Linked DNA regions of Homo sapiens: region 2 is linked to region 1. The links come from fine-mapping of genetic effects on gene expression. A gene starts in region 1. The other region holds a variant in brackets. All regions are shown on one strand. Distances are from middle to middle.

The links. PIP is the estimated chance that this variant, and not a neighbour inherited with it, causes the effect. A credible set is the group of variants that fine-mapping cannot tell apart.
Region 2: its variant is the best candidate, but not a certain one, in a credible set for the expression of UBXN4 in cerebellar hemisphere (GTEx, PIP 0.60).

What each region holds. Positions count from the first base shown.
Region 1 is chr2:135,739,799-135,743,798 of GRCh38, reverse strand. UBXN4 (UBX domain protein 4) reads right to left here and starts at 1,944. Exons shown (of 13, transcript NM_014607.4): 1 at 1,788-1,944. The coding sequence starts at 1,869. LOC107985946 (a long non-coding RNA gene) reads left to right here and starts at 1,155. Exons shown (of 1, transcript NR_163478.1): 1 at 1,155-2,970. RefSeq lists a silencer at 1,357-1,406 and enhancers at 703-1,478, 1,807-1,866, 2,197-2,326.
Region 2 is chr2:135,801,543-135,806,071 of GRCh38, reverse strand. LCT (lactase) reads left to right here. Exons shown (of 17, transcript NM_002299.4): 10 at 1,015-1,305; 11 at 1,944-2,142. Among named protein-coding and RNA genes, the nearest start is that of LCT-AS1, 16 kb to the left of the region's middle. The variant C/T (reference allele first, on the strand shown) is at 2,085.

The sequences.
Region 1 (4,000 bases):
TCCAAATATTAATATTTGTTAATAAAAATCTCTCGTTTCTTTTTTTAAATTAACTGATTTACCTCAAGAGTGCCTTCTAGGAATGTTTGGACATTTGTTCAAAAACATGACTACCATAATCCAAATTTCTGATTTCTATACCAATTTAAATCACCAATTTACAAATTGTTCAGTTTTTTCCTTAAGAAACAAAAAAGCCAGTTTTTTTGAAGCTACTAAAAAATTTGACTGTTAAGACATGTAAATCCTTTTTGTGGCCCTAGTGCAAGTCACTTTATGACTGCTGACCTAAGTGCCTCATCTATAAAATGGGGATAATTAAACCTGTTCTATTTACTGCAAGGATCAACTGAGATATTAGGAGAAAAACAATTTAAAATGTCAAAAACCTACTAATGTACACAATAAGCATAGTGTCATTTACTTTTCCTTTCATTTTCAATCCATTTTTTTCCTTACGGGATTACAGAATTAATTTATGTAAAGTATAATATAACCCCCAGACAGCATCACAGAATCTAAACTATTCAAGCTCTTCTAATAAACAGCATTGAGCTAAAAACTTGGCGTAACAAAACAATTATAAATTCCAAATTTAATGCTAAATGACATTCACATTTCAGTAATTCGTTCTTCACTGCAGTGCATAAAGTTATAGAGCTATTAAAAGACGAGTTAATTATGAATAAACCGTTATTAAACACAAATAGTTGAAGAAATACACCTCAAATTAACAACAGCCACAAACATTGATTTGGTCCATGTAATGAGTATGAGCAGAACCGTAGAGGCAGGGAGTTCACTGTAAATCTACAAGATTTCAGTAATAAAACAGGAGAATATGGAGCAAAATAGCCTAGAGCAACAGAGAATATATGAGTTAATAAACGTTCTCAAAGTCGTGTAGATTTTAGCCTAAGAAGACAACAAAGGGAAGAAACCAAGGACTGAACGTCTATTTTCTTTGAAACTAATGGATTTTTTTTAAACTTACATTATTTCACACTAGATCCCCTACCAAGACTGCCATAAAGAAAAATTAAACCTCTATTCAGCTCAAAAGTTTACGTTTCAGGAACGTACTAACACCAGTAACCGTGAACATCAGGTGGTTTCTCTTTGTTGCTTATCGATGACACAGCTTTCTTCCCGACAGTCCACAACTAATTACAACCCAACTGCTTGCCTAATGGCCCGTTCCTACCTCCATCTAAACAGCAGTAACGAAACGGGCGTTCAAGCAGCACAAAGAGGGTCCTTGGTGACAGAGAGGGACGTCAGGGAGAGGGTCGCGGGGGTCTGGCTGCGCAGGGGAGAGGCTCGGGGCGACGAGCGGGGCTGGGCGGCTGGGGCCTGCTGGCCGCGTCCGTCGCCCCGAGCGGGGAGATTTCGGCGGGCCTCGGGGCGCTTTGGAGACCAGGGCCAGACGGTGCCTCCGGCCCGGCTGCCGGGAGACGCAGCGGTGGGGCCAGGCCCACTGTATCTCAAACGAACCGGGGAGGCGCTGAACAGCCACGGGCCGGCAGCCCGGGCCTCGCAGACACTGAGGAAAGGCTGGGGGCGCCCGGGGCCTGAAGGAGCAGGGCGCTGAGGGTCTGCATGGCCCCTCTGGGGGATCTGGCGGCGGAGTCGCAGCCGTCCCTGGGGCGCGGGGTAGTAGTGGCAATTGTGCGAGCCGACAGGAGCCCGCGTCTCGGGGAGGGCGGGCCGGCGGCTGAGGTATACAAGAGGATGAAGGTAGGCCGGAGGGGTGTCCCGGCCGCCTCTCGAACCCCTGCCTCCTTCACCTGCCACGAACACCACGAAGACCGCGCCGCTCCTTTTGGCCGTCGCGATGGCGGCCGGAATGGCGCCCTGGAACCACAGCATCGCTCCCTTCGGGCCCAGGCGCTCGCTCGGTGTGTAGTCTCCGCAGTCCCGAAGCCGGCTCCGCCCTCCGTCTTCGTCCGGCTCTGCGGCCCCCGCAACCTTGGCTGGTTCGGCCCCCACCTCCGGCTCCGCACAAGCGCGCACGCCCGTCAGCGGCACCCGGAGACGCGCGCTAGCGCGCGCGAGAACACCTCACGTCACAGTCGCAACCCGTCGGTGTCCGTGCCCCAGGACCTTCTCTCGTTGGCGAGTCGATGGTGCGGGCGCGCGCCCGCTAGGCCTCCGGTCGCGCAGTCCAGGAAGTGGAGGAAAGCGGTAAGAGGGATGACTAACCGCTAAGACACGTCGGCGGCGCCTGCAGTGAGGCATGATGGGAATTGTAGTCCACTTAGGCTTATTCGCCTCCATATTGTGGAGCATGTAACTGTGGGTTCTGAGGCACAGCTAAAGGGGGCAGTAGTGAGGGCCACTACACATTCTATAAAGGGGAGAGGGAGAAATAAGTGTCACTCCAACTGGCATATGCTATTCTCGGCCTCGTTGAGACTCTCAGTGTGGAGGAAATAGTCCTCGCATGGAACTAAATGGGCTTTGTCGGGATTAACTCCGAGGCTTTGATTTCTTCTGAACGTAGCCCAACCTTGCAGAAAAACGGGATAAAAACCGCAAGTCACCTTCTTTAATAACCTGTAGTCCATGTGCCTAAGCGGAGGAATTGGTAGAACGCAGGCCTTCAGCAATTTCCTAGACACTGGATAGAGATCATTTCAAAACTTCAAAACGCGTTAGGCTATTGCCACAGCTACTTTTTAAAGTAACACAAAGCAGAGAATAGATTATTTCTTTTCCAGCTACTTTCCATGGTAATACAAAAGAGACTAGATAGTGATTTATTTTCCAATTTTCTGGGAGAATGTCCTATAATCAAGATGTGGCGCTTTGTGATTGGCTGCCATTAAATGAAAACTGATCCATATTTAATACTTTCATGAAATCACATGGTCTGTAATAACTATTAGCTAAAGGCTTGCATGGTTTATTTAAAGTTGCATATACTATTATGTTAAATTCTACATCAATTAAATTTATCCTCCAGCAGTACATCTATCTGACAATCTTTGCAAGATAAAGGAAGTGATACATCTGAATATACCACCTTTCCTACAGATATTTTCCCTAAAAATAGCTAATTATTTGCACTCCGATTTTTGTACTTTTTTTCCCAATCAGGCCTCTCGTATATAGTGTTATTATAAACTGAGACATAATGCTGATTAGGGACAGTTGCTTCTATAGGACAACAATCCTACAGAAAAATTAGAATTGACCTTTAACATCAACTTTAATGGACTTCTGGAAATTTGATCAATCTAGAAATTATTCCAATAGAGCTATGTCTTTAATTATCTCTAATTTTAGAATTAAATAAGAATCCTTCATAGTTTTATATTCATTTGTCAAGTGTTTATCACTCATCTTTTATGAGCTAGGCATTGTGCCTGGCACTGATAAGGAGGTGAGGCAGTCAGAAGAAGGCCCTGTCTTTGTGACTGTACAGTCTAGTCAGGAAGACAGACATTGAATAAGTAATTATGAGTGATGATAAATGTCACAGAAGGGTAATTCAGAGTGCTACAGAAGTGTATGAGGATGGGACCGAACATGGGCTAGTGGAGTCAGAAAGGGCCTTCATGAGGAAATGACGTGTCGGGGAACTCTAGGTAGGTGAAGGAGAAGGCTATTCCACATGAGGCTCTGAAGCAAGCAAACACAGTGCACTTGCAGAACTAAAAAATGCCCAGTGTGGCTATAACATAGAAAGAGGAGTGTGGTACAAGTGAGGCTGGAAAGCTAGGCAAGGATCAGATGATACAGAGTCTTGAAAATCATGTTAAAAATTTTAAGACATTTTTCTAAGGATTACAGGGAGCCATTGAAAAATTTTAAACAGAAGAGTTGGCCAGGCACAATGGCTCATGCCTGTAATCCCAGCACTTTGGGAGGCCGAGGCGGGCAGATCATGAGGTCAGCAGTTCAAGACCAGCCTGACCAACGTGGTGAAACCCCATCTCTACTAAAAATACAAAAATTAGCTGGGCGTGATTGCACATGCCTGTAATCCCAGCTACTC
Region 2 (4,529 bases), 62 kb before region 1:
GCTGGGATTACATGCATATGCCACCACACCCAATGAATTTTTTATTTTTAATTTTTTTGTAGAGATGGGGGTCTTGCTATGTTGCTAGGGCTAGTCTGAACTCCTGGCCTCAAGTGATCCTCCTCCCTCAGCCTCCCAAAGTGCTGGAATTACAGGTCTGAGCCACAGCACCCGGCCTGCATGTGCTATACTTTTATACTGCTGGCCATACGGTAGATTTATTGACATGAGCACTGCCACAAGCATGAATAATGCAGTGCTCTACAACGTTATGATGGCTGCAAAGCACTAGGCAATAGGAATGTTTCAGCTCCATTATAATCTTATGGGACCACCATCATATATCAGGTCCGTCATTGACCAAAACACTGTTCTACAGCCCATGACTATGACCAGTCCCTGTTGGACCCCTTTATTCCCCAGCTAGATCCTTCCAAGCAGGCAGTTTGCTCACATTGGCTCTCAGCATGGGCCTGAGCTTATTCTGATGTCCTAAAAACATCACACCACTACTGTATTCATGCCAAAATGAGGCTTACTCATACAGAAAATAGGATGGTTTTATTTTGTGCAAGAAAAATGGAAAAGGCAAGAGTGACTTGCCTGGCAGTTAGTGGTGGTTCCTGCTTTCCATCTTCTGTCTGCGTCTGTCTCTGTGCAAGAGTGGGCCTGCCACATGCGTAGAGAAAGCCAGGGGAGTTCCGAGACTGAGCAGGGGCCAGAGCAGGCTCCCAGAGGAGGTAACCACACTTGGCTAATTTTTTTGATTTTTTTTATAGAGATGGGGTTTTGCCATGTTGCCCAGGCTGGTTTTGAACTCCTGGGCTCAAGCGATCCTCCCATAGCGCTGGGGTTGCCGGCGTGAGCCACCACACATGGACCAATGTGCTTGTTTTAAGCTAAGCGTTATCACAAAAGAGTAAACGTCCTGACTTGAGACTCACCCAGTGAAAGAAAGGAGGCTGTGAGTGCTTGACTGAATGACTTAATAAGACCATGTCTTGTCATCTTGAGATTGAAGGTGCGTGGAGAGCAGATGGCAAAGGACTCAGCATTTGGGACACGTTTTCTCACACACCACTGAGGGTTGAGAACGATGCCATTGGAGACGTGGCCTGTGACAGTTATCACAAGATTGCTGAGGATCTGGTCACCCTGCAGAACCTGGGCGTGTCCCACTACCGTTTTTCCATCTCCTGGTCTCGCATCCTCCCTGATGGAACCACCAGGTACATCAATGAAGCGGGCCTGAACTACTACGTGAGGCTCATCGATACACTGCTGGCCGCCAGCATCCAGCCCCAGGTATGGTGGGTCCTGGCAAGGCCTTGGGAAAGTCCACATGCAGGAACCAGCAGGGCTGGGGGAGCACATTTATCATGTAAACAAAATGCTGGTTTCAAATTTAGCTTTTGTTGTTATTGTTGTTTTTGAGACGTAGTCTCGCTCTGTCACCCAGGCTGGAGTGCAGTGGCGGATCTCGTTTCTCAGCCTCCAGAGTAGCTGGGCTTATAGGCACGCATCACCATGCCCAGCTAATTTTTGTATTTTTAGTAGAGACGGGGTTTCACTGTGTTGGCCAGGCTGGTCTCAAACTCCTGGCCTCAAGTGATCCACCCGCCTCGGCCTCCCAAAGTGCTGAGATTATAGGTATGAGCCACCGTGCTCGACCTCAAATTTAACTTTTTAATTGTCAGTGAATTCATATGATGCAGAATTTGAAAAGCATAAAAGAGTTTCCTTCCCAACCTTGACCTCAGCCATCTAGTTCTCCCTGAAAGCAATTTACCCTTTTCCCAAAAGAAAAAGAAAAAAATCTTTGAGCCTTTTTGTCTCATAAGTCACTCTCAGGATTTGCAGCAGACGTTGATGCTGGCACATCTAACCTAGGGCTTCCCATGGAAAGCATGACTGATGCAACAGCTGATCTGGCTTCTTCCCAGGTGACCATTTACCACTGGGACCTACCACAGACGCTCCAAGATGTAGGAGGCTGGGAGAATGAGACCATCGTGCAGCGGTTTAAGGAGTATGCAGATGTGCTCTTCCAGAGGCTGGGAGACAAGGTGAAGTTTTGGATCACG[C/T]TGAATGAGCCCTTTGTCATTGCTTACCAGGGCTATGGCTACGGAACAGCAGCTCCAGGTAAGTCCCAGCCCTGGCTCATAGGCTCTTTGAATCATGGCATTCTTAGCACATCAAGAGTTGAAATCCAGATGGCACAGGACGAGGCAACCAAGAAAGCCCCATGGCAGAAACCCTGCCTCTTGCTCAGGGCTGTAGAGGTTTCCCTCCTGGCATTGCATTGTTAAACATGAATTTCACATCTCAATTCCTCAAGGTGGGTTCATTTCTTTGCTCTGTGACTCTGATCGGCCTCAGGTGGGAAGCTCTCTGAGATCAGAGATGTGGGCAAATTGATGTGGGGAAGGACAGTTTGTCAGGCTGTACAGGTCTACAGTCTATTTCCACAATTCCCAAACCCCAAAGTTTCTGACAATTGGTTTGGCTGACCTGAGCTCATTTAATAGTAGTGAAACCTGACTCAAACCAACAGGAGGCTGCTCATGGTCTTTATCGCACTGAGCAAACATTCCTAAGTTCTGCTGCAGAGATATCAGTGTGCTTGACTATGGAGAGCTAGCTGTCTGCGGCCCATGGGGCTGATAGGTACTTTTCTCAAAGGAAACATTTAATTCCAAAACACATCTGACCCTAAAAGATTTTTTTTCTTTTAACTTTGGTTGACATGCAATAATTGTACATATGTATGGAGTACAAAATATATTTTGATACATGTATACAATGTGTGATGATGAAATCAGAATAATTAGTATATTCATCACCTCAAACATTCATCATTTCTTTGTGTTGGGAAAATTCGGAGTCCTCTTTTCTAGCTTTTTGCAAATATACACTAAATTCTTTTGTATCATTATTTTTTATTCATTTTTTATTTTTTTGAGACAGAGTCTAGCTCTGTTGGCCACGCTGGAGTGCAGTGGTATGATACCAGCTCACTGCAACCTCCACCTCCTGGGCTCAAGCAATTCTCCTGCCTCAGCCTCCCAAGTAGCTGGGATTACAGGCATGTGTCACCATGCCCAGCTAATTTTTGTATTTTTAGTAGAAATGGGGTTTCATCATGTTGGCCAGGCTGGTCTCGAACTCGTGACCTCAGGTAATCCGCCCGCCTCAGCCTCCCAAAGTGCTGGGATTACAGATGTGAGCCACTGCACCCAGCCTAAATTATTGTTAACTACATTCACTCTACAGTGCCACACATCACTAGAACTTCATCTTCTTATCTAGCTTAACTTTGTATCCGTTAACCAACCTCTCCCTGTCCTCCCTCCCTACTACCCTTCCCATCCTCTAATAATCACAATTCTATTCTCTGCTGCTAGGAGCTCATCTTTTTAGCTCCCACATGTGAGTAAGAACATGCAGTATTTGCCTTTCTGTGCCTGACTTATTTCACTTTACATAATGACCTCCAGTTCCAGCGATGTTGTCACGAATGACAAGATTCATCCTTCTTTATGGCTGTATAGTATTCCATCATATATAGATGCCACATTTTCTTTATCCATTCATCTGTTGATGGACACTTAGGTTGATTCCATATCTTGGCCATTGTAACAGTGATGCAATAAACACAGAGGTCAAGGTATTGATTTGGTATTCTGACTTACTTTCCTTTGGATAAATACCCAAAAGTAAGATTGCGGGATCCCTTAGGGTTTTGAATAAGAAATTGTGGACCTATTTTTGTGCCTTGAGAACCATCCAGTTTCCCTTTTATCTAGTTCTGAGTTAATAAGAATAAATTTGTGTTCATTCATGTGATTCCTCAGAACACTGTGTAACAGCTGGAAAGAGCCACCAGGAGATGTGCCTCAAATCGTTATCAGAGGCATCTCCATTGGTCCTAGTTCGCCCCTTTGGTTTACACTCCTTCAACACATGAGAGGCGCCTCTCTTGCAGCATTCACTATCAGGGTATCTCCGTGTCAGCTGGTTGCATTAGCTACATTCTCCAACCCAAATGATCACAATGGGTCCCCAAGGAGCTCCAGATTATCAACTCCTGTCAATTCATTTGAGCCCAGGAGTTCAAGGCTGCCGTGAGCCATGCTCATGGCACCACTGCACTCCAGCCTGGATGACAGTGCATGACCCTGTCTCAAAAATAATCATAGGCCGAGTATGGTATCTCACGCCTGTAATCCCAGCACTTTGGGAGGCCAAGACAGGTGGATCACCTGAGGTCAGGAGTTCAAGACCAGCCTGATCAATATGGTGAAACTCCACCTCTACTAAAAATACAAAAATTAACCAGATGTGGTGGCATGCGCCTGCAGTCCCAGCTACTCAGGAGGCTGAGACAGGAGAATTGTTTGAACCCCTCGGCTCACTGCAGTCTCCACCTCCTGGATTCGAGTGATTCTCCTGCCTCAGCCTCCTGAGTAGCTGGGATTACAGGCGCCTGCCACCACAGCTGGCTAATTTTTTGTATTTTTAGTAGAGAC